4 linked regions of the Homo sapiens genome follow. The protein of the gene in region 2 interacts with the protein of the main gene of each other region in a pairwise test. Each region holds a gene or a part of one and is shown on either strand. Other genes may lie near its edges. The genes, in order: HSD17B11, TPRG1, SLC71A2 and CGRRF1.

Region 1 (7,030 bases), on a different chromosome or scaffold from region 2:
CCTGGGCGACAGAGTGAGACTCCATTTCAAAAAAAAAAAAAAAAAAAAAGAACTCAAACCAAAAATTCCATAAACAAAGAGGTTCTCAAGTCTTGCTGAATCACACTTTTTATACTGCACTGAATTAGAATATCCAGGGGTAAGGTCCAGGAATGTGTATTTTAAGGAATCTGCCCAGGTAATTCTGATGACCTTGCTGCCATTAAGGTATTTAGTTAACAGGTACAAGCGAGAATGCGTTCAGAGTGAAACCCCATTATATACAGCACATCTCAATTGTATCTAGAAGAGGCAAATAATGCTTTATAGAAATAGATCTGCTGGGAGCGTGGCTCATGCCTATAATCCCAGGACTTTGGGAGGCTGAGGTGGGTGGATCCCCTGAGCTCAGGAGTTCGAGATCAGCCTGGGCAACATGGTGAGACCCCGTTTTCTACCAAAAATACAAAAAATTAGCTGGCGTGGTGGCACACACCTGTGGTCCCAGCTACTTGGGAGGCTGAGGTGGGAGGATTGCTTGATTCTGGGAGGTGGAGGTTGCAATGAATCGAGATCATGCCACTGCACTCCAACCTGGGTAACAGAGTGAGACCCCCCATCTCAAAAAAAAAAAAAAAAGAGAAAAGAAAAGAAATAGATCTATCTACAATAAAAACCTGATAAAGAATAGCTTTATTGTAACTTTCTAACCCAATTCTATGAATGGGCTTCAGAAGACCCTGTCAGCAATTCTGCAAGTGTCATCCAGGCATAGTTACCTATATGAGCATCATGGGTGAGATGAAGGCGCATGGGAGGCAGGGTGGATGTATTTGAGGCCCTGCCTTCAACCTACTGAAAGAAAATCTCTGGAAGTGGAGCCCAAGAGTATATATATACATTTTTAACAACTCCCTGGAAAATTCCAGAACATACTAATATTTGAGAGGTTCAGTTCTCGGTTCTAGTTTTGGGTTTGCTATGAGCTAGTTCTATAACCTTGGTCAAATAACAACATTTCTCAGGTACTTCATCTATATCATGTACAGACTGGGTCATCTCCAAAACACCTCCTAGCTCTAACATGATATGATTCTAACTAAACACAACATTTCACCTTCTTTGCAGAGCTGTAAATATCTTCTCGGTTGCTGCAGTCTACCACAAAGGTATGAACCTTGGCACCCAGTCCCTTGCATTTGGCAGCTGTTTCCTCCAGTCCATGCTAGAAAAAGCAAAAAAGAGGGCAAGGTAATAATTGATATGAACATATTATATCGACAGCTGAAAATAATTAAAAATAATTTTTAAAAAGTAGTGAGATTCTTTCCATTTGAATTGGGCAAGATTGTTAACAACACATTTTTGGCAGGTATATAGGCACATTTTGCTTTTAGTATTTTGACTAGCTTCTTTTATTTGGAGCTGAATTTAAAGCAAGCTTCTTAAAAGAAGATAAAAATCTTAAAATACTAGTTTTTATATTTATGAACTTTGAATACTTTGTGAATGTTGGTATCTCTGTGTATTCCATATCAGGCTTTAAAAAATGTAACATTAAACTTTTTTCCATGTCATTAAAAACTATTCATGGATGTCAGTTTACTGTCTGCAAAAGAAATAATGAGTTAACCACAGTTCATTAAACCATTTGTTCTTTCAGCATTTTAATGTGAAGGTCATATTCACTGAGCTTAGAAAAACCTTGACACAAATATGAATGAGGTAGAGTCCCGACCCCAAGAAGTTCTCTGTGTAGTAGAAAGAAACATAAGTATCATAGTTAAGTAGGACCACGTAATACTGTTATTGTTTTGATAATAAAAGATTGAATATTGGCAGTTTCAACCTAATACATTGTGATGAGTATCACAGCAGAGTTCTATACAGGGAGTTACGGGAACACAGAGGGGCACACAATACAATTCCAGCAGTGGTTTGCCATGCCCTTTCACTTGCTTTCCCCAGGGTGAAAGGACACATCAGGCAGGGTGTGGGCAATGACAGATAGGAGATTGGTCTTGTGGAAACCACTAGTAGGATTAGTGTTGTTGGATGGATCATAAAGGTCAAGGCCAGAAGAAGTTCAGATTAAGGTCCCACATGTCATATTAAGATTTATCAAAAAATGAATGAGGAGCCACTGATTAAATTATAGTGTCAGGTTTATGTGTCGTATTGATTATTTTGGCTGATGTATGGAGGGTGGATTTTAGGGGTCAACACTGGAGGAAGAAAAAAACTGAGAGGCAGTTACAGTGATTCAGGTAATAGATGACACAAACTTGAAATGTGGCATTAGTAGAAAAAATGTAGAGGAAAGAATATCCTTTAAAATATATGTTTAGAAGGTAAAATCAGTAAGACTTGGTGAGTAGATGAGGAAGGATGGGAAGGAGCCACATCTGACATCTTTGCTTTCTAGTTTTGGTAGCTGGCAAGATCACGCTGCCACATGTCAGACAGAGATGACAGCAGATTTGAGGAAAAGGGGTTATGAGTCCAATTTGGGGCGCCAATTTTGAGTCAACTTAAGTTTAGGATCATACCATTGGGGTTTTTTGTTGTTGTTGTTATCTTTGCTTGTTTGCTTTTGGCCAATTTTTGCCTTTTTTTTTTTTTAACTTTTAAGAGAATGTCTCAAAAGATATTTTGGATGAAGATCTAGTATTGTGCATTCTGCAGGCCAAGTATTAGGTTGTTGGAAAAGTAATTGCTGTTTTTGCCATTAGTTTAATGACAAAAACTGCAATTACTTTTGCATCAACCTAATAATTGTCAACTAATGCACTAATGGGCAGACCCTAGGAGGACTCATACATTTATCCACAGAGAGGATGGTGAATCAGTGTACACATTTGTAAATGGCAACTAATGTTGGAAAGGCCAAATCTGGACAGCTGTGGGGAGAATTAGTAGCTTGCATAGTGAAACTGTTATGATAATAAAGGGAAACAAGTTCTTTTTCTCCTGTGGGAAGTCAGGGACCCCGAATGGAGGGACCGGCTGGAGCCGCGGCAAAGAACATAAATTGTGAAGATTTCATTTTAATATGGACATTTATCAGTGCCCAAATAATACTTTTATAATTTCTTATGCCTGTAATCTCTTAATCCTGTTATCTTCATAAGCTGAGGATGTACGTCACCTCAGGACCACTGTGATAATTGTGTTAACTGTACAAATTGATTGTAAAACATGTGTGTTTGAACAATATGAAATCAGTGCACCTTGAAAAAGAACAGAATAACAGTGATTTTTAGGGAACAAGGGAAGACAACCATAAGGTCTGACTGCCTGTGGGGTCGGGCAAAAAAGAGCCATATTTTTCTTCTTGCAGACAGCCTATAAACGGATGTGCAAGTAGGAGAGATATTGCTAAATTCTTTTCCTAGCAAGGAATATTAACATTAATACCTTGGGAAAGGAATGCATTCCTACGGGGAGGTCTATAAATGGCTGCTCTGGGAATGTCCGTCCTATGTGGTTGAGGTAAGGACTGAGATACGCCCTGGTCTCCTGCAGTACTATCAGGCTTATTAGGGTGGGGAAAAACTTTGCCCTGGTAAATCTGTGGTCAGACCGGTTCTCTGCTCTCGAACCCTGTTTTCTGTTGTTTAAGATGTTTATCAAGACAATATGTGCACCACTGAACATAGACCCTTATCAGTAGTTCTGCTTTTTGCCCTTTGAAGCATGTGATCTTTGTACCTACTCCCTGTTCTTACACCCCCACCCCTTTTGAAACTCTTAATAAAAACTTGCTGGTTTTGAGGCTCAGGGGCATCATGATACGTGATGTCACCCCCAGCGGCCCAGTTGTAAAATTTCTCTTTATACTGTCTCTCTTTATTTCTCAGCCGGCTGACACTTATGGAAAATAGAAAGAAGCTACATTGAAATATTGGGGGCAGGTTCCCACAATATTTTTCTTTTACTGAAATCTCCCTCACAAACTGTAGTATACTCTCATGAGGAACTCTTATTCCTCAAGGGACATCAACATCTCAGGTAAACTTTATTTTGCTCTCCTATACTTAACCAGCAGCTTTTGGCATTTCCTTTTACAAGTATATTAATGTTGTATACACATAGGATAGAATATTATTCAGCCTTAAAAAGAAATGAATTTCTGACACATGCTACACGTACAACCTTCATTATGCCAAATGAAATAAGCCAGACACAAAAAACAAATACCATATGAATGTACTTATATGCAGTACCCAGAGTATCATATTCATAGAGACAGAAAATAGAATGGTTGTTGCCAGGACCTGGGGAGAGAGAGGGCTGGGGAGATATATTGTTTTAATGGGTACAGATTTTCATCTTGGGAAGATGAAAAATTTCTGGAGAGAAATAGAAGAGATCACTGCATAATAAGGTAAATGTACTTAATGCCACTAAACTGTACACTCAGAAATGGTTAAAATGGTGTGTTATGTCATATATTTTACCATATTTTAAAAAGTTTTTTAAAAGTATATTGTATTGGCCAGGTGCGGTGGCTTACACCTGTAATCCCAGCACTTTGGGAGGCTGAGGTGGGCAGATCACAAGGTCAGGATTCTGGGAATAGCCTGGCCAATATAGTGAAACCCTGCCTCTACTAAAAATATAAAAAATTAGCTGGGTGTGGTGGTGGGCACCTGTAATCCTAGCTACTTGGGAGGCTGAGGCAGGAGAATCACTTGAATCCGGGAGGCAGAGGTTGCAGCAAGCCAAGATTTTGCCACCGCACACCAGTCCGGGCAACAGTGCGAGACTCTATCTCAAAAAAAAAAAAAAAAGTATATTGTATTGATTGGGTCTTCTCTTTTTTGAACAAATATATTTCCTTACATGAACAAATTTTACAATAAAAATTTATGTCCCATTTATTCTGTTTTCAGAGATTTGCTTATTACTGGTTGGCTTTCTGTAACCACCAAGCAACTAACCACCACTCCACTATATGGATGCAAAGATACCCTTCTTTCACATCCGCTGTCTCACTTTTGCCCTGTTTCCTTGGTCTTCCTCATTTAGGTTGGTCTGCTTTCCACACCTTCTGAATTGTGAAACTTTTTTTTTTTTTTCTGAGATGGAGTCTCGCTCTGTCACCCAGCCTGGAGTGCAATGGTGCAATCTTAGCTCACTGTAGCCTCTGCCTTCCCGGTTCAAGTGATTCTCCTGCCTCAGCCTCCCTAGTAGCTGGGATTACAGGCATGCGCCACCACACCCGTCTAATTTTTATATTTTTAGGAGAAACGGGGTTTCACCATGTTGCCCAGGCTGGCCTTGAACCCCTGGCCTCAAGTGATCCTCCCATCTCGGCCTCCCAAAGTGCTGGGATTACAGGGGTGAGCCACTGCACCCGGCCGGTGCAACAAATTTAAGTTCTAAATTCCTCCAGAAAAAATTCCGGACAGTGCCCTGTAGATAGTTGGTAAGAAATAAAAAATAAGCAGATCTTCAAAAAAAAAATGAATTCTTCCTTTAAAATGTTTTGCAGCACAGTACAATTGCTCATAACTCTTCAAGATTTCCCTTGGTAACTTTTTTCAAATATGTTTGTCTATTGGTACAACTAAGACCTTTACACCCATTACCTTGATTACTAAAAATTGAAAAACTTTTTAAATTATGCCCATTATTCTTTCAGTTATTCATTAATTCAGTTTTTCATTCAACAAATAGTCTTTGAGCATATATTATATGCTCACCACTTACTGTAAATTTTTCTTTCCAAACTAGTATTTTAGGAAAAAGGGTCTCCCTGTTGCGCAGGTTGAGTGCAGTGGCTATTCACAGGCATGATCCCACTACTGAACAGCACCAGAGCTCTGACCTGTTCCGTTTCCAACCTGGCTGGTTCACCCCTCCTTAGACAACTTGGTCTCCTTCATGCCCACCGCCAGAAGGTACCATATTGATTCTGAACTTATGCAGACATGCAGAGCGCACCACAGTCCAGAACTCCCGGCCTCAAGCAATCTTGCTGCTTCAGCCTCCTGAGTAGCTGGGGCTACTGAAGCATGCCACCATGCCTGGCTACAAACTATTCTAACCAAGCATGGGAATGAGAATAGTCAAGAAGTGATAGATTATCACAAAGCAGAATGAATAATTCCCATTATCAGGCTTAGTGGAACAACAAAGCTGACACCACCATTAATTCTTCCCTAAATTAACATATGGTACATGTGGACACTGCTGTCCTCATTACATGGATGAATCTAAGAGATTGTCTTTGTACTCTAGGTGAAAGGGCCCTCCGTTTGGCCCCTCCCTGCCCTGCCAGCTAGATCTCATAACAATCAAACACCACTCCACTTTCTTCCTCATTCTCCAGGTATTCACCAGCCCAAGAGCTTCACATCTCCAGTTTCTGCTACCTGGACTGCTCCAAATCCCCACCCTGTCCTTTCCCAATCAGGTTTAGTGGTTCTCAGCCTTCTATAATTTCAAATCTATAAAACGGCAAGAAAAATAGAGTGGGATGTGTATACCGAACTAGGATTGCCAAACTTTTGGCCAAATAAGGACACTCAAAACTAACAAAATGACCCTCATATGTTATCATGTAATTTCATTAACAAATATATTTTTTACCCACAAAAAGTAGGAAGGATATAATCTCAAAATAAAATATAGATTATTTAAATTAAACTAATTTAACCTAATAAAAACTCACTACATTGTCCTCAATTTTTCTGACCATTACTCCGAATCTCTGCTACTGCCAACCCGGTTCAATAGTCCCCATCATTTCATCTCATGCCTGGATTATCACAGTAGTCTCTTACTTTACTTGTTCCTTCCATCTTTTCTCCTCTTACATCTCTCCTAAGCCCAGCAGCTGGAGGATCCTCTTCAATAGGAATTACCCTCAAAACCCTTCATTGACTCCCCAGAGTAAAAAGCCAAAATACAGGAAATTTTATCATCTGTAGCTCCAGCCCTTTAAATCTCTACACCGGTACTGTCTCATAGAAATATAACGCAAGCCATGTATATAATTTTAATCTTTCTAGTAGTCACACCAAAAAAAAAAAAAACAATCTAG
Region 2 (7,030 bases):
AGACAAAGAGGAAATAAGAGGGAAAAGAGCAATGACAATAGAGTGTTAAGACAGTGTTTTTGAAAACATGGTCTTCAAAACCCTCTGCGATCCATGGACATTCCATATGCAGCACCTCTGAGGCCTAGAAAGAAAGATGCCTGTGGCATTCTCATCTTCACTCCAACCGCATTGAACCTACTTTTATCTGCTTCGTATATGCTGCTTCTACAAAAGATTTCTTTAGAAGAAAAAGGTCTGTTATTAAAAAATATATATTTGAACAAAAGATGGTATAAGTAAATGAGCTAGAAACCAAGTGTAGGATAGATTGAAACAGTCAGCCTTGGAGTAGGGATTCCATTTAACAGGCTGTGGTAATAATTGGTTGAGCAGAATTAAAAACCTGATCTAATAATACAGCTATAAGAATGGAAAGGAGGAATACATGAACAATTTTGATAAGAGAATGAGCTTCAAGTTTGACATCTGGGCATCGGAATACAATGCTAAGCCGTATAGAGATGTGATCATATATAGGATGTCATGGCAAGGAATTTAGAGAAATCAAAATTGACAGACTTCAGGGATGGATAACTGGGACCATATAAATACCACAGGATTTTGATAATGCTCAATTAAGAGGCCACTGGGACACTGATATATAGATGATTAGCAGTCAGAAATGCAAAACTGAGTCTTGGAATAAATATTGGGAATGGGAATATAAATTTGGAAGTCATCCTTATCAAGTGGTAGCTAAAATACTAGAGACAGTGAGACCCCAATGAGAGAATAAATCAGGATAAGAGGGCTGAAGACCAAGACCTAAAAAAAAAAAAAAAAAAAAGCCTACATTTAGAGAGCTGAAGCAACAGGACTTAGAGTCTTCTTTCCTGAGTTGATGATCAGGCACTCATTTGATAACAGTATTTGATAGGCTCAGCAGCATTTATTTTCTAGTTTTAAGAAAATTTGATTATTCTTGTATGAGGTCTAAAGTGTGTATCTATCAGTCCAATCAAGCTTTTAAATTTTCGGAAATACTAAATTTCTAAATCATAAAGCGTCATTTAAAAATAATTAATTGTTTCAGTCCAAAAATAGCGTGGGTCAAACTGGAATTTTCAAAGTGACATATCTGTGGATGATATGCTTATGGTACCAAAAAGACTCTCAAAAACCAATACTCCCACGGGCAAGGGAATAGCCAAGTTTGTTGCGGTTTCCAATGAATGACATCAGCCCTGTGTAGGTCTCAATCAAAATGGGTTCAGTTAACACCATCAGTTTCTTTCCTCTTCCAGATCCAGTTGAATTCTTGTGGGCATTCTGGATAGCTGGAACAAGCTTAGACATGAACCCAGACAACTGAAGAAGAAAAAAAGAAGGCACAAAGTTAGTTACTGTAGATTAAGTTGAGAGATACTCATCTCCCCAGCCAGTCTTCACAGAAGTTGACTACTCTCCTGGGGCTGCAGTTATTCTTACTTCTTAAACATAAATGGTTAAATTTATCTCTATTAAGTTAATTCAGTTAATAACTGTGCTTAAGTCCATTAAGACTAACTTTCCTCAGGCCCAATTTTGCTTCTTAATGTCAGAAATAATATGTAATTTTTTCAGTTTGTTTATCATCCACATAAGTCTACCAAGTACCATTTTAGTTTTAGCTGCTTTAATATTTTGTTAGTATACAAATAATTTGCATCGGTATTAGTACTGTAAACTGACTCTCTTTGTCACTAATAGATGAAAGGGCATCTGAAATTACTTAAGAAATATTGATGAAGCGCCTACAACAAGTTCCAGGGACATTTTAAGTTGAACAGACAGGCAAAAAAACCCCGCTGTCATGGAGCTCACATTCTCGTGATTGCAGACAAAAAATATTCATAAAAATTTTGAAGGTGATAAATTCTAGAAGGAAAATAGAATGTGGTAAAGGGATAAAAAGTAATGAAAGTTAGAGTTACTTCACATACTGTATTCAGGGCAAGTCTTTCTGAGGAGGTAAAACTTCAACTGAGACCCATACAATGAAAAAGAGCTAGTTACGTGAAGAAGAAATTCCAAGCAGAAAACACAGCACCTGCAAAAGCTGTAAGGGAGGCATGAATTTAGCTTCTTCAAGGGACACAGAAAACGCCTTTTAGACAGAAGTCTAGTGATCAAAGGAAAGAGGTTGAAGCACTAGGCATGAAGAGTCTTCAGGGCCATATTAAGGGCTTTGGATTGATGTGATTTTAGGAAGGAGTTCAATGTTGTATGCTGTTATTTTACAAATAATAATAATCCTAGCTACTGTGTGGAGTCAAAAATAGAATGCTCTTAGGGCTAAGAATGGAAGCAGGAAGACAAGATGAGTTTGGAGTTCACTTCAGGAGTCCAGGCAAGATACGACGGTGGCTTGGACAGTGTAGCAGTAGAGACCATCGGAACTGGTTAAATTAGGGATTTGGGGGGCAGGGGGTTCAAGCCAAAGAATGTGTTGGTGTGATTGAATTTAGGGATGAAGAAATGAGAAGGAAAAAAATGACACCCAGGTTTTTGGCCTGAGCAACTGGGTAGATAGCGATATTATTATTGAGTTGAGAAAGCCTAGGAGAGGTACAGATTGGAAATGGTAAGATACAGGGATGGAGGATTTTGTTGCAGACACGTGGTTTGAGTTACCTCACCAGAAATCCTCTTAGAGATTTTCAATAGGCAACTGGATATAGAATCTGGGACCATGAAGAAATATACAGATAAAAAGTCCATGTCTATAAATTTTTCATAATAATAATCACAGACCCAGAAGTCAAGAATGATATTCATAAAGTGAAGTTAATAGCCTAAACATGATAGGATATGGGACAGAGAGTAGGAATTAAATTCAGGAAACTCTTGTTGGATAAGATACTAGGCATTGTGGGCAATGTAGAGGGGATCTGGTAGGTAAACTGAGGATCTAAATGTTACAGGGATCTACCCAATACCAAATAACTAGTAAATGATTGAGCAAGGGCTTGGACTCAGGTCTCCTGACTTAACTCCTGAAGTCCTCTCTTTATAACATTGCTGTTATGAGCAGGAATTATAAAATTCTAATTTTTAGAAAATTTAGTTTTAAAATTCTGATATTTAGGGAAGAATTCATGTTCCTCATTTGCAAAAGGGAGAAAATATTACATTCATTAATTTTTAAACCATGTTCTTTAGAACACTAGATCTCTTCACAGATTGGGTGGGTACATATAATTTATCATCCAAATCTAAATTCTCTGGAAAAGAAAGGAAGTGCTATGTGAATAATGTTGGGACAGCAGGTACCTGAGGCTTCGAGGAGAGGATGTCAACAAAAAGCCAAAAGCCAAGCAGGTAACTTATTTTAGTCTCTTCAATCACATCAGAGCTGCTCTATTTTTATGATCAGTTTTATATATTTGAGTTCCAAGTAAGATTTTACTTCTTTTTAAATGAAAATCACTTGCCTAGGAAACTTCAGCTCTGGCAATCAATGATTTAATCCAAAAAGATCTATAGTGCCGACTCTCCAACACATCTCTCAAAACCAAGCTTAAATCCTGTATCTTCCACAATGCCTTCCCACAAACTCAAGGGAAAAGTTGACCTTTTTTTCTCTTATGTGTTTCCTATACCTATACCTCCACTCAAATATTTCATCTGGTTTTCTATGAAGTAGAGTCACAAATGTGGCTGTCTGTACAGCTAAACCAAAGTTTCTTCACCTTGGGACTATTGCTATTTTAGGCCAGACAATCTTTTGCTATGGCAGAGAATGTCTTCTGCATGTTAGGATGTTAAGCAGCCTCCCTATCCTCCTCCCACCAGATACCAGACAGATACCTCCCTGTGTATAGAAGGAAGTCTCCTGTAATAGAGGGCACGCCCGTCCAATACCCAGTACTTGAAATCACTTGAGAAGTCACGCTGCTGGACAGACTGTATATATCATCCTTGCATATTTTTTCCTGGAATTATCCTCATAGAGACCCTGTGACTATAAATTCAAGTGTGTAGAGACAAATAAGAAGAGGCAGTAGCTCCTTTTTCCTTGCACAAGAGAGGTTTCTACCCATCGTAATTTCCATCCTCATCCTATCCCATGCCTCAACCCTCCTCTCTGAACACATGCAGATATATGCACACACATACAAGTGCACTTTAAACTTAGCTAAACTGAATTAGTCTTTATCAGAGAACATTTTATATACCTTTGTAAGTATACATTTGATATGACAACCGATAATATCTCACTGGGACACTGGGACATTGTCATATGTCCCCCATGGGAAAAATCACCCTCTCTTGAGAACCACTGAACTAAAGGAAGTATAGGATCAGGCAGAGGGGTCTTAAGTTGGAACTATGATACTCACATAGCTGTGTGACTTTGGGCAAGTTATCCAACCTCTCTGAAATTTATAGTTCCTTTGCCATAAAATAAGAATATTAATAGTATCAAACTTATCAGGTGGTTGTAAAGATTAAGTGAAATAAAGTGTTTGTATACACGCTGTGAATGGAGGGGTGCACATACATGCACTTGTGTGCTCACATATTATATAAAGGATTAGGAAAGCAGAATGAGATGAGCCTGAAATTTGGAGTTATATTGCAAAGGCCATAAAGGAAGCTTGTTGCCAGGAATCAATAAATAATAACTGCTTAATCATCACTGACATCATCCTCATCATCATTACCAAACCATGATCTCTTAAAAATCAAAGTATAATTCATCTCAACAATTCTATTGCAACAAAGTCTGGATTATCCAAAGTCTGGATTATCAGGATGCCTTTTCATAGATCAGTAAATCTTGTCCAGTTGGATTACTGAATGCTTCCTCTGGCTTCATCATAAACTTCTTTCCTTAAGAATCCTCTGTAGACTCAAAATCAAAGTGCTAGAAAGTAAAAGTTGGCACTATTTCATACTCAATGAATTTGGCATTTCATTGGAGTCAGATGGACTTCATTTCCAGTCATTTCTAGGAGCCCCTTCAAAGCCAGGGGAGGGCATGGTTACAGAGAGACAAGCAGGGTGACAAGCAGTGCATTGAAGGAGAGGCAGACAAAAGGCCAAGTCCCCGAGCTGGCTCTTGAGCATTTCAAGCACCTGAACTAAATCTATGTGACAGGAACGCTGTGTCATCTGATATGAATGCCACCAGCCACATACTTTTCCCTAAAAGCTTTTATGCACCCACCTCTGGCTCTCTCTTTTATTTCAGTCCCAAATACAGAGGGTCAGGTTTTAACAACTCCAGTTACACAGGGGCTGTGTGTTGGTTAGGATAAAGTATAGCAGCAGTGTGCGTGGTGGGGACAGGGGGGACATCGTATTATTCTTGACTTTCCACCAATTATTTACCAGCCGAGTGCCTGGTCCACAGGTTTGCTTTAGGTGCTGTCTGCCAACAGTTCATTGCCTGGAGTCTCAGTTTTCCTTATTACAACCATCACTGGCTTCCTGTTTACACTGGGTAAAGAGACCAGGTTTCATGCCTGTAGGCCCACATTCCTCAGTTGAGCTGGTTTTCTGAGCCTGCAGGCTACAGGTTTCAGCCTCCCTGTGTATGGAAGGAAGTCTCCAAGTCTCCTGTCATAGAGGGCACGCCCATCCAATACCCAGTACTTGAAATCACTTGAGAAGTCACACTGCTGGACAGACTGTATATATCATCTTTGCACATTTTTCCTGGAATTATCCTCATAGAGCCCCTGTGACTATAAATTCAAGTGCATAGAGACAAATAAGAAGAGGCAGTAGCTTCTTTTTTCTTGCACAAGAGAGGTTTCTACCCATAGCAATTTCCATCCTCATCCTATCCCATCCCCCAACCCTCCTCTCTGAACATATGCACATATGTGCACACACACACAAGTGCACTTTAAACTTAGCTAAACTGAATTAGTCTTTATCGGAGAACATTTTGTATACCTTTGTAATTCGCAGCTTTTAAGCATGTTTCCTCTAATTAAAATGTCTTTTCCCACCTTCTTTGGTGCTTAAATCACCCATACCTTGAGTTTCATATCAAATGTCATCAGACTTGTTAACTTTTGGACTTATCTGTTCCCACTTTTGGGCTCCCCCTATTTACAATCTTAGTACTTTAAATTATAATTTGTGAAAGTCTTTGCTGCCTCCTCCCCCTACGCCGTAAGTATCTGTAGGGCAAAATCAGTTTTATTCTTCTTGGTAATCCAGAATATTGCTCATCATGTAATGGTCACTGCCAGGTAAGTACTCAATGAATATTTGTTGAATTGTTGTAAAAGGCAAACAAAGGGCTAAGAGTATAAAGTTAAATTTAATTGCTAAAACATTGGTTCATTTACATGATCCCCTTGAAAAGATGGATAGAAATACAAGAAAAGAGTACAAATGGTTGGTCTGTAGATCATGATGGTTGTAGGGCACACATAATGCGTTCACTGCTATTCATCAGTTCTGGGTTCAGTACTCATCCTTCCCAGCAGTAGTCTCTGCATACTGTAGGAACCCAGCAAAGCGATGGTTAAAAAAGAAAAGGTAAGGCTATAAGTTGCAAATACAAAGTGGATGAAATAATTGAGGATAATTGAGCCAGGTTTTGAGATACAATATTATACCATATCACATCAATTAATACAAATGTACACACAGTCTCTCTCTTTCTCACCCCCCCTTACACACACACACACACACACACACACACACACACACAATTCTTTCAGGCTTATACCCATTTCCTTGAATATTAGGAAACTGGGTATAACATAGAACTATTATTATATGATTTCAGTCACTTAATCCCTCTGAATAACTGTCCTCATTTTTTTTTAAAGAGACAAAATCTTGCTCTGTCATCTAGGTTGGAATGCAATGGTATAATCACAGCTCACTGCAGACTTGCACTGCAGACTCGAACTCCTGGGCTTAAGCAGTCCTCCTGCCTTAGCCTTCCAAGTAGCTGGGATTATAGGTAACTGGAATGGGAATACTGGTACATGCCACCATGTCTCATTAATTTATTTTATTAAGTTTTTTTAAAGACATG
Region 3 (7,004 bases), on a different chromosome or scaffold from region 2:
GCCACTTAGGTTTTTTTCCATCTTTTGGCTGTTATGAATGCTATGAACGTGGATATACGCGTTTTTGTTCTGTCCCTGCTTTTTAAAAATAAAAATACAGATGGTCTCCAACTTCATGACAGTATAAAAGCGATACCCATTTAGTAGAAACCATACTTCAAATTTTGATTTTTTTTCCCAGGCTGGCGATATGTGGTATGATACTCTCTCGTGACATTGAGCAGTGGCAAGTGAGCTGCAGCTCCCAATCACTATGCACTCAGGAGGGTAAACAACCAACCAATACTCTACTGTGCTGATACCGAAAGTGCTGAAGCTTCTAAGCTGTGTTAATAATGCATTTGCAATGTATGATATTTTCAACTTACAATGGGCTTATCAGGATGGAACCCCATCGGTAAGTCAAGGAGCATCTGTAGTTACGATGTTTTTTTCAAGGAGCATCTGTAGTTACGATGTTTTTGAAGGGAGACTTTGAAGGAATTTTGTTAAAAATAAAATTTTTTTGAAAATACATACCTTTTGCATCAGCTGAAAGATTACAACTCAGTTTAATTGAAAGCCACCCAACAGAGAACCCAAAAGAGCAATACTATTTGCTTTAAAAAAAAGACACAAGACATAAAAGTAACCACTGTAAATTTATTATGCATTAGGAAGCTTAACCTAAAAACCAATAGCATAGTAAAAAGATATGTTATCTCTGTTCATAGCAGAACAGGTTTCAAAATATATTTTCTTTTAAATGTATTCAGTCAGTACACAATCCTTTATAAAAGTTGTATATATTTTTTTCTGTCAATACCTTCATTACATTTATAAATACAAGATTTACACAGCACCCCATCAAAAAAAAAAAATTAAAACCCTTTACAAATATCTACATATATTTCATACCTATAAAACTTTCAAAGGGGTGCTCTGTTAAAGGTGGGCCCTAGTTAATGGTCCATTTACTGGTGCAGCAAAATACATATAAATCTGTAAAGTTTTCTTTGTCCATAAAACATCTCAAAAAATAGCAAGACACTTATCGTGAAACTCAGCTTCATAAAACCTTATTTTAGAAAGGAACTTAATGTGCGTATTCCCATGCGATTCAAAAGTTAAACAGATTGAAATAAAGATGAATTGAAAACAAATGCATACTCAGAGCAGTTAAGGCAGGAGTGTGATGGATGAGAAAAACTTTGAGAAGCAGGACATGGAAGACATGGGAAGAAGCAAATCATAATAATGCCTTTGAGTCTGAACTTGGATATAAACTTCACTCGTATCCAGTTACTAACTCTCATCCTACTTAGGAATTTCCAAATTGTTAATAACTTTCTTAGAAGCAGCCTACAATCTCTATGTTGCCACCAGAATGCTTGAGTTGTTTTTTTCTTCTGTAAAATCACCTTGGACCCAACCAGGACACCAGGTCCAGGAATCTGAGTTGTTGAGTTTTACATGATTTAAGTTTGTAATGAAAATTTCTTTCATCTAGTAAAGGTAATTACTATTCAATATTATTATGTCCAGAAGTGTATATATGCTGAGTTTCATTCTAGCTAAGAATAGAAAGTAGAATAAAAGGAGACTAGGTTTTTATTTGACCTTTGAACAAAGACAGTAGATCCCTGATACTGAGTGACTCTTTAAGAGTGGCCACTCATCAACACCTATGGGCTGATTCAGAGAAACAGGAAGGTAGAAATTAAGAAGAGATTCTTTACCTGAAATCTTGCCAGAGATGGCAGTCCCGCTACTGTTCTGTGCCTTCTGCTGAAAAGGGCATGGAAAGATTGCTGCCACTCTTACTCTATAGTCATTACAGGAAAGCCATCCTTTCTACCAGAGAGATGACTTTTTCTATTTGAGTTTCACCTTGGGAGTTGCACATTATTTGCAAGGAAGTATTTCAAATCTTATCTTGTTCTAATGTATAAACAGGAAAAAAAAAAAGAATGTAAGAGAAAAAAAAAAAACAGGAGGAGGATGAGCAGAATGATGGCGGTGGTATTTATCAAACTTGGCCCTGAAGGATGCCGCTAGCGTCTCCCATCCAGCACCATGAAGTCACCAGGGGTGTGGCTCCCTCCATGGCTCTCAGAGATGGCGTATGCAGAATCCCACTTTCTGCCGAGTTTACAGCTCAGTGCACTGATTCCCAGGCTCCTCAAATGAAGAGAGCTCCCAGATGCTGCTGTCTTGCAGTAGTGGCTCAATGTCCTCATCACTGCCCCGTTCTGGGGTGTTGGTCAGGCTGCCGCTGCTGCTGTTACTGTGTTTTTGAACTCCACTGGCTTTACTGTATTCAGGAATGAATAAGGCAACCAGAAAAGACATAAGGACTATACATGCCCCAAATAAAAACGGCGGGCCTGGGATGACAGCTCCCTGTTGAACGTGGAAAACAAGTGGAGACAAAGAATACAGTTAGTCTTTTAACTCAAAATTATTCCTAGATTACCCAAAAAAAACACACCACCAAAAAGTGAATCATATTCTCATAAGCAAATGTTTCATTAAATGTCAAGGCAAACTCCACTAGAGCTTGGTGTTTGGAATATGACAAAGGGCAACTAATTAACTGCTTTTTGTACCACTTCCAAATAGCTTAAGCAAAACTGTAAGCTTGTAAGCAACAGCTGTTTACCTATAATCCCATCCTATGACTTCAGATCATGCACCTTTGTACATGAACATTAATTCCAGCTTTGTATAGATATGGCTTAGAGGGAACAAGGGAAGAAATTTCAAATAAATAGTACAAAAAGTACCCTACCTCAATTTTTAGCTGGATTTTTAGGTCATTTCAAATTTTAACTAGCCTGGGCTTATCCAGAGAATAGTGTAGTGATTGTGTAGGTGAAAACAGAATCTGAACAAAGTTAAGACATATCTTTTACATAAGATATTAAATCACTAAAATGACCCCTCCCTGATCCCGAGAAGCAATGAACACAATACTTATTGCTGCCAAATAAAATATAGTAACATACAAGAAAGAATGCTCTCCAAATTTAAGGTCACAAGATTTTGCTATAATCATACATAATTGTTGTTACAAAACTAGACTTATGACCAAATTACCTGCAGGGGAACGTTGTTAGAATTCAATTTCGGGCCCAACTCAGTCAGTTCCACATGGAACATGTAGAATATGAAGCCATACAGTGCTGGCCCCAGGCCATTGCATAGTCCTCTTATTCCAGTTATGATCCCCTGGGCAACTCCTAAATCAGAACAAAGAAAATAATGCCAGTCTTCTCAGAAAGGCATCTCAAGATTTGGAGCTGCACAGTACTTTCTCATAACCATGATACACTAATTCGGCAAGACTGAGGAAAAGAGAAAGCATGCTAATGAAAGTAGATTAGGAAGACTTTATCCATTATAAAATAAAATCCAAAACTAATAAAACCATATAAAACATATAAAATCATAAAAACATATACAATCCAAAACTTTAATATCTTCCCATTTCAGGCAATGTCCACTTTTCTGTCAACTGAGATTTCCCTGCTCTGGTCATTTACTGGTGCTTTCACAACAAAAACTTGCCCTTCACCTCTGGCAGCCCTGGTGTCAGGAATACAGACCAGTCCCCAGTAGGCAGACTTCATCTTCACAGGTGTATTCCAGCCTATCTCCCTAGAGACCTACACTGAAAAACCCAGAAGTGCCAAATTCCTAAATATCTCTGCTTTCTAACATAGCAAGTAAAAAGTTAGCTTGAACTGTATGAAATGAATGTTTCTGTAAATCAAAAATGGTAGTATATAATTCAGCCTAATACAATGTGTTCCAAAACTTTTATATGCTGACATTCAGAAACATGTATATTGACATGAATAAGTATAAAAAGTCAAAAGAAAATCCATGCCCCAAATGACAGGACGGTGTCTGTCAGATGCCAAGGCAGTGACAGTCCTCCACGGATGGGTCATCACATCTTCACTTCAGACACAGCACCTCCCTAAGGATGCAAACCAACTGAGTTACTGTAGCCAGGAGTGACATACAGAATGTGTGGTCTTCAAGGGACAATATTTAACAATGAATCTGAGTAAGATACCTAACTTCTGATATAGAAAAAAAAAATGCAATGAATAAACCATCCTTTCCAATATAGTTTTTTACTAAAACTTTTAAAAAAAAGGGCTCTTAGGCATTAAAAAATTTTTCTCCCTCTAAAATTGTCTACTTCTTCCTGAATACAATAAGGTGAGCCATTAGGAGATAGAGAAGGAAAGAGATTAAATCTAGCCATGGGAACTGCTTGAAAGGAAAGCAGTCCAGGCATGGGGGCTCACACCTGTAATCTCAGCACTTTGAGAGGCCGAGGCAGGCAGACTGAACCCAGGAGTTCGAGACCAGGCTGGGCAACATGGCGAAACCCCATCTCCACTAAAAATACAAAAAATTAGCTGGGCATGGTAGTGTGCGTCTCTAGTCCCTGGTACTTGGGAGGGTGACTGGGAGATCACTTGAGCCCAGGAGACGGAGGCTGCAGGGAGCCAAGATTGTACCACTACACTCCAGCCTGGGTGACAGTGAGACCCTGTAAGGGGTAGGAGGTGGGGGGTGGGGGGAGGAAGGGTGGGAAAAGAGGGAAGAAGGGATGGAGGGAGGACAAGACAGGACAGGAAGGGAAGCAGAGGCATGGGAAGGATGGGATATGGATCTAGATGGTAGAATGCTATTTTCCACATAGCAGTCTTAATTTTAATTTCATCTCTCACTCAACATCTATCAACAACCACACAGACTTTTTCTTACTACTCTCAAACTATTTTCTAAATTAAGCTCAAAGACTTTGAGTTATTCCAAATAATTAGTGAATAAAGTAATTAAGTAACTCGTGGTTAACTGGTTTTTCATTATTTAATAGACATCTGTTAAAATGTGATTATAGTCTGCTTAATTGTGACACTAAAGAAGAAAAGATGTATCAAAACTGAAAAGGGAAAATGAATAGTTCTATTTCTAATTGTTAGCAATCTGAACTGCTAAGTCTAGCTTTAAAAAATATAAGTGTAAGATCAAAGCAGAGAGGAAAATAGAATGTTCCTATCTGCCAAAGTAAATAGGTATGATAAAAGGGGCCATATGGCTGTCGGCTCCTGCTGTTGATGGGGAGAACTCAGAGCTGCTCCTGCTTCTAGCAGGGAGGTCTCCCGTTGAAGGAGAAAAACAAGTGGGGGGCAGTGACCTCACCTTGCTGATCTGACTCTGCATTCCGAGAGACGAGGGCACTGATTGCCGGAAACGTGATGCTGGACATGGCAGCCACGGTCCCTGCTGCCCACATCATCCTGCAATGACAGGACAGGCACAGTCAGGCAGCAGGTCAACCTCAAGGAGCTCACTATTCGGAATGCAATCAGTGGCAAAAGTACAAATGCCTTGTTTTCTCCTGTTACATTTTATTTATTTTTTCCTCTTTAAAAATGCATTTTTTTTTTAACCTACAAGGTTACATGTGACACTGGAGGAAACGAATGGCCTAGGATGGGGACAGAAGGGCCAGGAAACCTTTGTGTCTTGATTTTACTTCTTTTACAAACTTTTCTTCTCCCTGGTCTCCCTACTGCTATCTTTAGACATAAGCTCAATGAAGTTCGCAAGGAGATTTCTTTTGTTGCTATAAATACCACATTTTCTCCACTGACCTTTCATTTTTTCTTTGTACCTCTTGAAGGCTCACTTTCACACTGCCCTCGAGCTACAGCTTGCTACCCCTCAACAGAGAGAGCATGGTGTGCCCCCAACTGGAAAAACAGACCTGCCTTCCTCTTTAGACCTTTGTCCTCCTCTCAATAAGAGTCTTAACTATGTATCAGTATGAAGTGTGAGTGAGTAAAGTGAGGCCCCAACTTTGGGATGGTCATTACTGAAAAAGAAAAACCTCACATGATGACAAAGTCTTTTTAACACTACATGAATGTGACTAAATCAGCTACTGAACCAAAGTTCACAGGAGCAAAATCAAAAAGAACAAGGAGAATCAAGCAAGTTAATCTGGTAAAAAGTCACAGACGGCTAGGGACAGTGGCTCATGACTGTAATCCTAGCACTTTGGGAGGCCAAGGCAGGAGGATTGCTTGGGCCCAGGAGTTCAAGACCAGCATGGGCAACATGAGACCTTGTCTTTACAAAAAAAAAAAAAAAAAAAATCAGAATATTAGCCAGGCATGGTGTAAAAAAAAAATCAAAATATTAGCCAGGCGTGGTGGTGCGTGTACATACTCCCAGCTACTCAGGAAGCTGAGATGGGAGGATCGCTTGAGGCTGGCAGCAAGGCTGTAATAGTAAGCCATGATTGTGCCACTGTACTCTGGCCTAGGCAACACAGCCAGACCCTCTCTCTCTCAAAAAAAAAAAAAAAAAAAAAAAAAGGAAAGAGCAAGCGGATCAAATGAAATTCCAAAATTCAGAAGGGGCATATGTACTTACTCCCCAAACTAAACATGATAACTAAGGCAATTCTAGTTTCTCTAAATTATGTTGTCTGTTTGTGTCCAAAGTAAGGACCAGCTCTACCGTCTAAAATGGAGAAGGCATTTCTGCATCTGCCCACCAGGCACATGGAGAAACCTGCCACATTAACAAAACAAAACTCACGATTCCTTCTAATTTTTCTTATTCCACTGAGCTTATTTGGACCTTCCTTCCTGTTTATGGGGGAATCTAATATGGTAGTAATAACTGCGGCAGAATGCACATGGTTTTGGAAGAAATTTTAGTGTTCAAACTCAAATGATTTATCAAGGTTATGTTACTGATAGGTAATGATAAGTCATAGTGAAGCTTGCCATAATCAGTCATTTTTTTTGTATCTTCTTGTTTTGCTTTTGACTATATTCAATGTCTCTAAAAATTAGCATATGTGGCCAGGTGCGGTGGCTCACGCCTGTAATCCCAGCACTTTGGGAGGCCGAGGCAGGCAGATCACAAGGTCAGGAGTTTGAGACCAGCCTGGCCAACATGGTGAAACCCATCTCTACTAAAAATAC
Region 4 (7,030 bases), on a different chromosome or scaffold from region 2:
GCTTCTCTCACAGGGATCCTTCCTCAAGAAGGTTTGTGGCTTTTCCGCCCCATCATTTCTCCCTTTTTAGTGGCTTAGCATATTTTCTACAGTCCTTATTTTTTTCACTTTTTTGCAAGGCTGTCTCTTACACTCCGCTTTATTTGCTTGTTATAGATAGTCTGGGTAAGGACAGTTTGAGAGATACCACACCCATGTGCTTCACTTATTTTGATTCTGAATTTTCTTACAGCTACGTCCCAATTCTGTTAATGCTATTGATCTAAAGTGATGTCATGTGTGTACTGAGTTTTAGAAGGCAAAAAAATACATAAAAATTGAAACTCTTTGCAAAAAAAAAAGTGGAAAAGGTAAAGGGAGAATAGTTTTGATGGGGGTACTGACACTGTCTTCAGATAGTGGAAATCATTACATTCTCCCCTCAGTTTATGTAATGGACAAGTTTGTAAAAGATTATAGAGATATACCTAATGCTAAATGACGAGTTAATGGGTGCAGGACACCAACATGGCACATGTATACATATGTAGCAAACCTGCACATTGTGCACATGTACCCTAAAACTTAAAGTATAATAATAATAACATTAAAAAAAGAGATTATGGAGAGTATAATTTTATAGATTCTGTAGTTTTTTTAAATTAATTTTAGAGACATTTTAAGATCTGATTAATCTCCAGTTGTCAAAGGTCTCTGACACTCTTCCCATTTTAGTTAAGTATACAAAGTCTATAAACGAGTCTCTTAAGTAGCTCTGAATCTTTGGGGCTCTGGCTTTTTTTTTCTTTTTACAAAGCAAATAAACAGGGTAGTTTTATATGTTCTGTAAGCTGTAAGTTGAGTTTTAAAAGGCTTATCCTTCCATTGTTCTTTTTTTTTTTTTCTTTTTTTGAAACAGGGTCTCACTCTGTCATCCAGGTGGAAATGTAGTGGTGTGATCATGGCTGACTGCAGCCGTGATCCTCCTACCTCAGCCTTCCAAGAAGTTAGGACCACGGGTGCGTGCCACCATGCCCAGCTAATTTTTGTGTGTTTTGTAGAGACATGGTTTTGCCACGTTGGCCCAGGCTGGTCTCAAACTCCTGGCTCAAGTGATCTGCACATCTTGGCCTCCCAAAGTGCTGGAATTACAGGCATGAAACACCACACCCAGCCTGTTCTTCTTTAATGTAAACAAACACATATATGGGTATCCATTCTTGTGAGATAAACAGTAGCATATATATTTAATTTTCTCTACCTTGCTTTTTTTTCATTTACTAATATATTCTGAAGATCATTTCATAATAGTGTGTGCAGATACTCTGATATACCTCAATTCTTTTTTTTTTTTTTTTTTTTTTAAGAGACAGAGTCTCACTGTGTCAGCCAGGTTGTAGTGCAGTGGCACGATCTCGGCTCACTGTAACCTCCGCCTTCCTATTCACTTTTAATAGCTTCTTAGTACTTTATTGTAGAGTACTATATTTATTCATTTAATCCGCATTGATGAACATTTGGGTTTATTCCAGCATTTTGCTATGATAACTAGTGCTATAATGAGTAGCCTTATACATATATCTTTTCACATTTTTGCTAGTAATACAATAATAAATAATCATTTTGTGTTTCTTGTTTTTTCTTTTTCAATGTTTTAAAATATGCATTTTCTATTTTTTCCTTTCGTATCTACCTCCAGCTTTTTTCTTCTGCCTCATGTTATGTGGTTCTACAGTGACAAAGGGAAAAATATGTGTGATTTTGTATGTGTGTGTATATGTGTGTATATGTATTTGTGTATGTATAAATAAAATGTTTTCCTTCAGCTATTTAATATCAAATGGAATTTTTCATTCTTGAGTTAATACCTGATGATTGGAATCATAAAAATTTGAAATCAAAGCCTGCTCCAATTAACCTATGCAAAGTTCCTACCAATTAAAATTTTTCCTTAAGTATGATTAGAAATGGCCATGTATCAATGCTACTCAGACTCTCAGACTGTGTGTACATACTACTAAATACTGAGAGTAAAATTGGAAAAATCAGTTTTTGGTATCCTGTGGAGCATCTGCTTGTATTTGTGTATCTTCTTCTAACATATACTCTTGATCACATTTTAAAAAATAGGTAATATATCAATCAGAATTCTTATTAGCAAGCAACAGAAACAACTTCAATAAAAGGATATTGGGTAGCTTACAGAATTGCTGGCAGGTTTGGAGAGCCAAAATCAGATGCCAAGGCTGTTGAGCCAGGAACAATGACCAAAACCAGGCCCTTTTTATCTAGTCAGTGTATCAGTGCCAAGGAGTACTACACGTTACAGTTTGCGCTGCTACAGTTTGCACCCCCAGCAGTATGAAAGGCTGGATGTTGCTACCCTTGAATGTGATATTGCTACAAATACCACTAGGAGGGGGAAATCACATAGGTGACACAAAGTAAGTCCTATACAAGTGTTAAATAAAACTGTATAATTTCACATCTACTTACAATTTGTATATCCATTTAATCAGGTCTACTCAAATTGTTATATCTTCTTAAGTTGAAAGTGAACAACTGAATTAAGATACCACTATTAAACTCTTTATGTTTTGGAATCCCCACTCTTTTCCTCAGGATATTTTGCATATTACATGGGACATTAAGTCTGTGACAAGCCTGTATGTTAATGTTGTCAATGTATACATTAATGTTAGTAAAGCTCAGTTTCTTTTTAATATTTTTCTTACAACAGCGATCATGTTGTGGAGCCTATAGGTTGTACATATCCCCTTTAGAGGACAGCTGTATTCTGCTGCACTGTTTCTTGTCGTTAGGATCATATACACTATGAGAGTGGTAGGTTATCAATAGTGAACTGTATTTTAGTTTTAAAAATCTAGATGGGAAATGTCTTAGAGTCGCCAAAAAAGAAAATTAACAGTTTCTAAGCTTTAATAGATAAATAGTAAGAAATAGTTTTTTGATAGCTCTCAAAAAATGTGTAGACATTGAGCTTTTATATCTCTTGTTACAGAGGCCAGTTCCTTCGTTTATAGGAGGCATACCCTTTAACAAGTTCTTTTAACTGCCATCATCCTGGCCAGCATCCAAAAGGAAGCTTTTGTTACTCACCCTGTATGATTGTATTAGAAGTTACATTAAATCACTTTCATTCTTTCTCCTTTGTTTTTTACAGCTGGCATAACCTTGACAACAGATTGCCTTGAAGATAGCCTCCTTACATGCTACTGGGGGTGCAGTGTTCAAAAATTATATGAAGCTCTGCAGAAGCATGTTTATTGCTTCAGAATAAGCACTCCCCAAGCATTAGAAGATGCTCTGTATAGTGAATATCTCTATCAGGAACAGTATTTGTATCCTTTCGTCTGATATACCCATTAGCACTGAAAATTAGACTTCTTATGGATAAAGTGTTGCTAACTTATTGATCATTCTTGGTATACTAGAAGCATGTTTATTGCTTCAGAATAAGCACTCCTCAAGCATTAGAAGATGCTCTGTGGAGTGAATATCTCTATCAGGAACAGTATTTGTATCCTTTCATCTGATATACCCATTAGCACTGAAAATTAGACTTCTTATGGATAAAGTGTTGCTAACTTATTGATCATTTTTGGTATACTAGAAGCATGTTTATTGCTTCAGAATAAGCACTCCCCAAGCATTAGAAGATGCTCTGTGGAGTGAATATCTCTATCAGGAACAGTATTTGTATCCTTTCATCTGATATACCCATTAGCACTGAAAATTAGACTTCTTACGGATAAAGTGTTGCTAACTTATTGATCATTTTTGGTATACTAGAAGCATGTTTATTGCTTCAGAATAAGCACTCCTCAAGCATTAGAAGATGCTCTGTGGAGTGAATGTCTCTATCAGGAACAGTATTTGTATCCTTTTATCTGATATACCCATTAGCACTGAAAATTAGACTTCTTATGGATAAAGTGTTGCTAACTTATTGATCATTTTTGGTGTATTTTTGTTCTTATGGTTATAGTGGCAATTTACCTTTACATTTTCAAAAAGTATTAAAAAGGATAGCAAAGAAGAAATATATTGCCAGTTACCAAGAGATACTAAAATTGAAGACTTTGGTACAGTACCCAGATCTCGCTATCCATTGGTAGCGCTATTGACCTTAGCTGATGAGGATGACCGGGAAATTTATGATATTGTAAGTAATTGAAAATTTTGAAAGCATTACCTTTAAGTGATTTGAATGGTGGTTCTTCATTATTTGATAAATAGAAAAAGTTTTATTTTAATTTCTGAGGATGTGCATTTGGCCTACAACAACTATATACCTATTTGGTTTTTATATGTGAAACAGTACCTTCAGATTATGACTCATTTCTTGCCTTATGGGTCACAGTAATATGACTTTATTTGGAAAATAAAAGATATATAATGGTTGAATTAAGTTAGTTTCATCATTAACACCTATTTGGTTGTATACACCTATTTAGTTTTTATATGTGTAACAGTACCTTCAGAGTATGACTCATTTTTTGCCTTATGGATCACAGTAATATGACTTTATTTGGGAAATAAAAGATATATAATGGTTGAATTAAGTTAATTTCATCATTCTGTATTCTGTCATATTTGCTGTATAGAAACAGTCTGTTGGGAAGCATGTTTATTCTGAACATGTTTAGCAGTGAATAAATAAGCACAATAATGATCGAAAGTGCTCAATTTTAAGATAGTATCCACTCTTTTTTTGCCTGCTTGCAGTCACCTTGTTTCCATCAAAGTCCCTGCTGCACCTATATCTTATATGTCTGGTCCCTGTATTTTCAGTAATTATAATAATCTCCTTTCCTCATTATGTGCTAATTATTTTTTCAGTCTGATAGTTGATTCCTATTAGGAAGTTAAAAGTATCTTAGAGATCTAAGAGGACTGAAACTTTGACAATCATCTGAGTATAATAGAAACTTAGACATGAAATAAACTTTTGATGAAATTGTATCATGGTAAAAATGTCCTTACACACAATTGACTACTTTTCTGAAGTATTTAATATAGATTATTCATTAATAAACATATGGTAACATTGTTTTGTGATATTCGTAATATGCAAAGTACGTTCACAAACATGAACTTATTTTTTTCTTCTAACAACCTGGTTTCTTAGGACAGGGCAAATATTCTCCTTTCACAGACTGAAACAGAGTCAAGAAAAATCCCAGTCATTCAGGCAGTAAGAGATGGAACAAGAGCTTGACTCTGAGCTTTTTGTGTGTGTTTGTTTGTTTTTGTTTTTTGAGTTTATTTTTTTTAGCAGGAATATCTTCCTGCAACAAGTGTACATTGAGCTTTGGAAGGTAAAGACTCTTTGGGAAATCTAGACCCTTCTTACTCATTTGCAGTTAAGCACCTAGGTTTTTGGTTTTTAATATTTTCAAACTGAAGTTCCATTGAGCTGAGGTCAGCTTATTTTTTCCAAGTCATGGGGAGCAGAGGGGAAGGAAATGGGGATATGTAGGTCACTAGAGACAAAGTTACAGATACATAAAATGAACAGGTCTAGAGATCTAATGTACAGCATAAAGACTATAGTTAATGTGGTATTGCTTTTGGGATTTTTGGTGCTCTTGCCACATGCAAAAAAAGTGGAAGTAACTGTGTAAGATGATGCGTAATTTGCATTATAATAGTAACCATTTCACTAGGTATATATATATCAAAACATCCTGTTGTACACCTTAAATATATACAATAAAAATACAAAATACAAAAGTCATACCAGCAGTAGTGTATTTCCAGAACCTAGTACAGTGCCTAGGATATAATAGGGGTTCAATAAAGATTTGATAAGTAAAAAAAAAAAAAAAAAGTCATACTAGACAATGTTAATGAGCCTCATAGAGCTTGACAGCGAAACACCTTAGCTGTACATCCCATGCACCTTAGCGTGCATGAGAGGCCTTCTGGCTTCCTCCCTCCTTTCTCTCAGTTTCAGTTAGAGATAAATAAAACCTGTTAAATTGGTGTCTCCTATTTCTAGCTTCTTTGTTCTTGACCCTGTGTACTTGGGCAAGGAAGCCCTTCTGCCCCCACTGTGTGCCCCATCTCTGCTGAGTTTCTTGGGTTCTGTTCTCCTTTTTCCTTTGGTTCAGCACAAAAGGATCAGATCGCAGTCATTTTCCCTCCCAGCTTCCCCATTGCATTCCTTTTCCCTTCACTGATAGTGCTCTCTAGGTGCTCAGGGTCTTTTTTTTTTTCTAACTTTCTTCCCCTGTCCAAACAGGGAGTGATTGTGTATCTGTGTGGTAAAATATATATATTTTATATATAAAGTTTACCATTTTAACCATTTTTGTGTGTGTGTTTTCAGTTCAGTGGCCTTTTAGGCCAGAGAAGAGTTTGCTCTCAGGTCCCTGATCACACTGGATGAAGACTGTGTGGCCCAGCTGTAGTTGTGGGAGGCTTGTTCCCATAGGGAAGCCTGAGTGTCTCCCAAGGGTTAACAGCCATCTTCTCTTGTGCTTTGTGTATGTCTCTGTGTCTGGGTCCTTTTGAATGTCTTTTATTCTCATCTGTGGGCTCCCTCCTTTTTTCCTGTTAATCCTTGCTTCTCGTCTTATTTCTTAGATTGGGGGTAATATTGGCACTCAAATATATTTATTAGTGTATTTTGTATTAATGTTCTCTGTTTATAATTTTAAAAGCAAATGGACCATTTCCTATTTCTTTTTCATATGTGTTTTTTCAGTATTGTATGTGCGTGTCAGGGACTATATTTTTTTAAAAAATTTATTAATAAAATCATTTTTATTTTAACAGCAAAGAATTATATTTAGGTAGTACAGTTAGGAACCACTTTGTTGTTTTAGATTAAAAAAAGGAAAGCAGGAATTGTTACTACAAAATTTTGACTTTAAAATTTTTTCATTTTTAGTTAATTACATTGGCTTTTTTTCAGTATTATTCAAATAATACATTTGTGGCAGGAAAAAAAATTAGAAAGTGTAGATAAGCCAAAAGGAGAGAAGTATAATAATCTGTATTCTATCATCCAAAAATAATCACT

What was found.
Region 1: the proteins of TPRG1 (region 2) and HSD17B11 interact in binary tests that used the Homo sapiens proteins (3 or more experiments, as listed by UniProt).
Region 3: the proteins of TPRG1 (region 2) and SLC71A2 interact in binary tests that used the Homo sapiens proteins (3 or more experiments, as listed by UniProt).
Region 4: the proteins of TPRG1 (region 2) and CGRRF1 interact in binary tests that used the Homo sapiens proteins (3 or more experiments, as listed by UniProt).

Annotation. Positions count from the first base shown.
Region 1 is NC_000004.12:87,381,159-87,388,188, forward strand, and holds part of HSD17B11 (estradiol 17-beta-dehydrogenase 11 precursor), read right to left. Parts: intron 1,205-7,030; coding exon 1,097-1,204; intron 1-1,096. UniProt on the Homo sapiens protein: Can convert androstan-3-alpha,17-beta-diol (3-alpha-diol) to androsterone in vitro, suggesting that it may participate in androgen metabolism during steroidogenesis.
Region 2 is NC_000003.12:189,314,946-189,321,975, reverse strand, and holds part of TPRG1 (tumor protein p63-regulated gene 1 protein), read right to left. Parts: intron 6,484-7,030; coding exon of another isoform or gene 6,448-6,483; exon of another isoform or gene 6,283-6,447; intron 1,351-6,282; coding exon 1,156-1,350; 3' UTR 1-1,155.
Region 3 is NC_000009.12:94,454,539-94,461,542, reverse strand, and holds the end of SLC71A2 (hippocampus abundant transcript-like protein 1), read right to left. Parts: intron 5,304-7,004; coding exon 5,206-5,303; intron 3,222-5,205; coding exon 3,079-3,221; intron 2,383-3,078; coding exon 2,131-2,382; 3' UTR 501-2,130; downstream 1-500.
Region 4 is NC_000014.9:54,526,886-54,533,915, forward strand, and holds part of CGRRF1 (cell growth regulator with RING finger domain protein 1), read left to right. Parts: intron 1-3,163; coding exon 3,164-3,341; intron 3,342-4,017; coding exon 4,018-4,165; intron 4,166-7,030. UniProt on the Homo sapiens protein: Able to inhibit growth in several cell lines.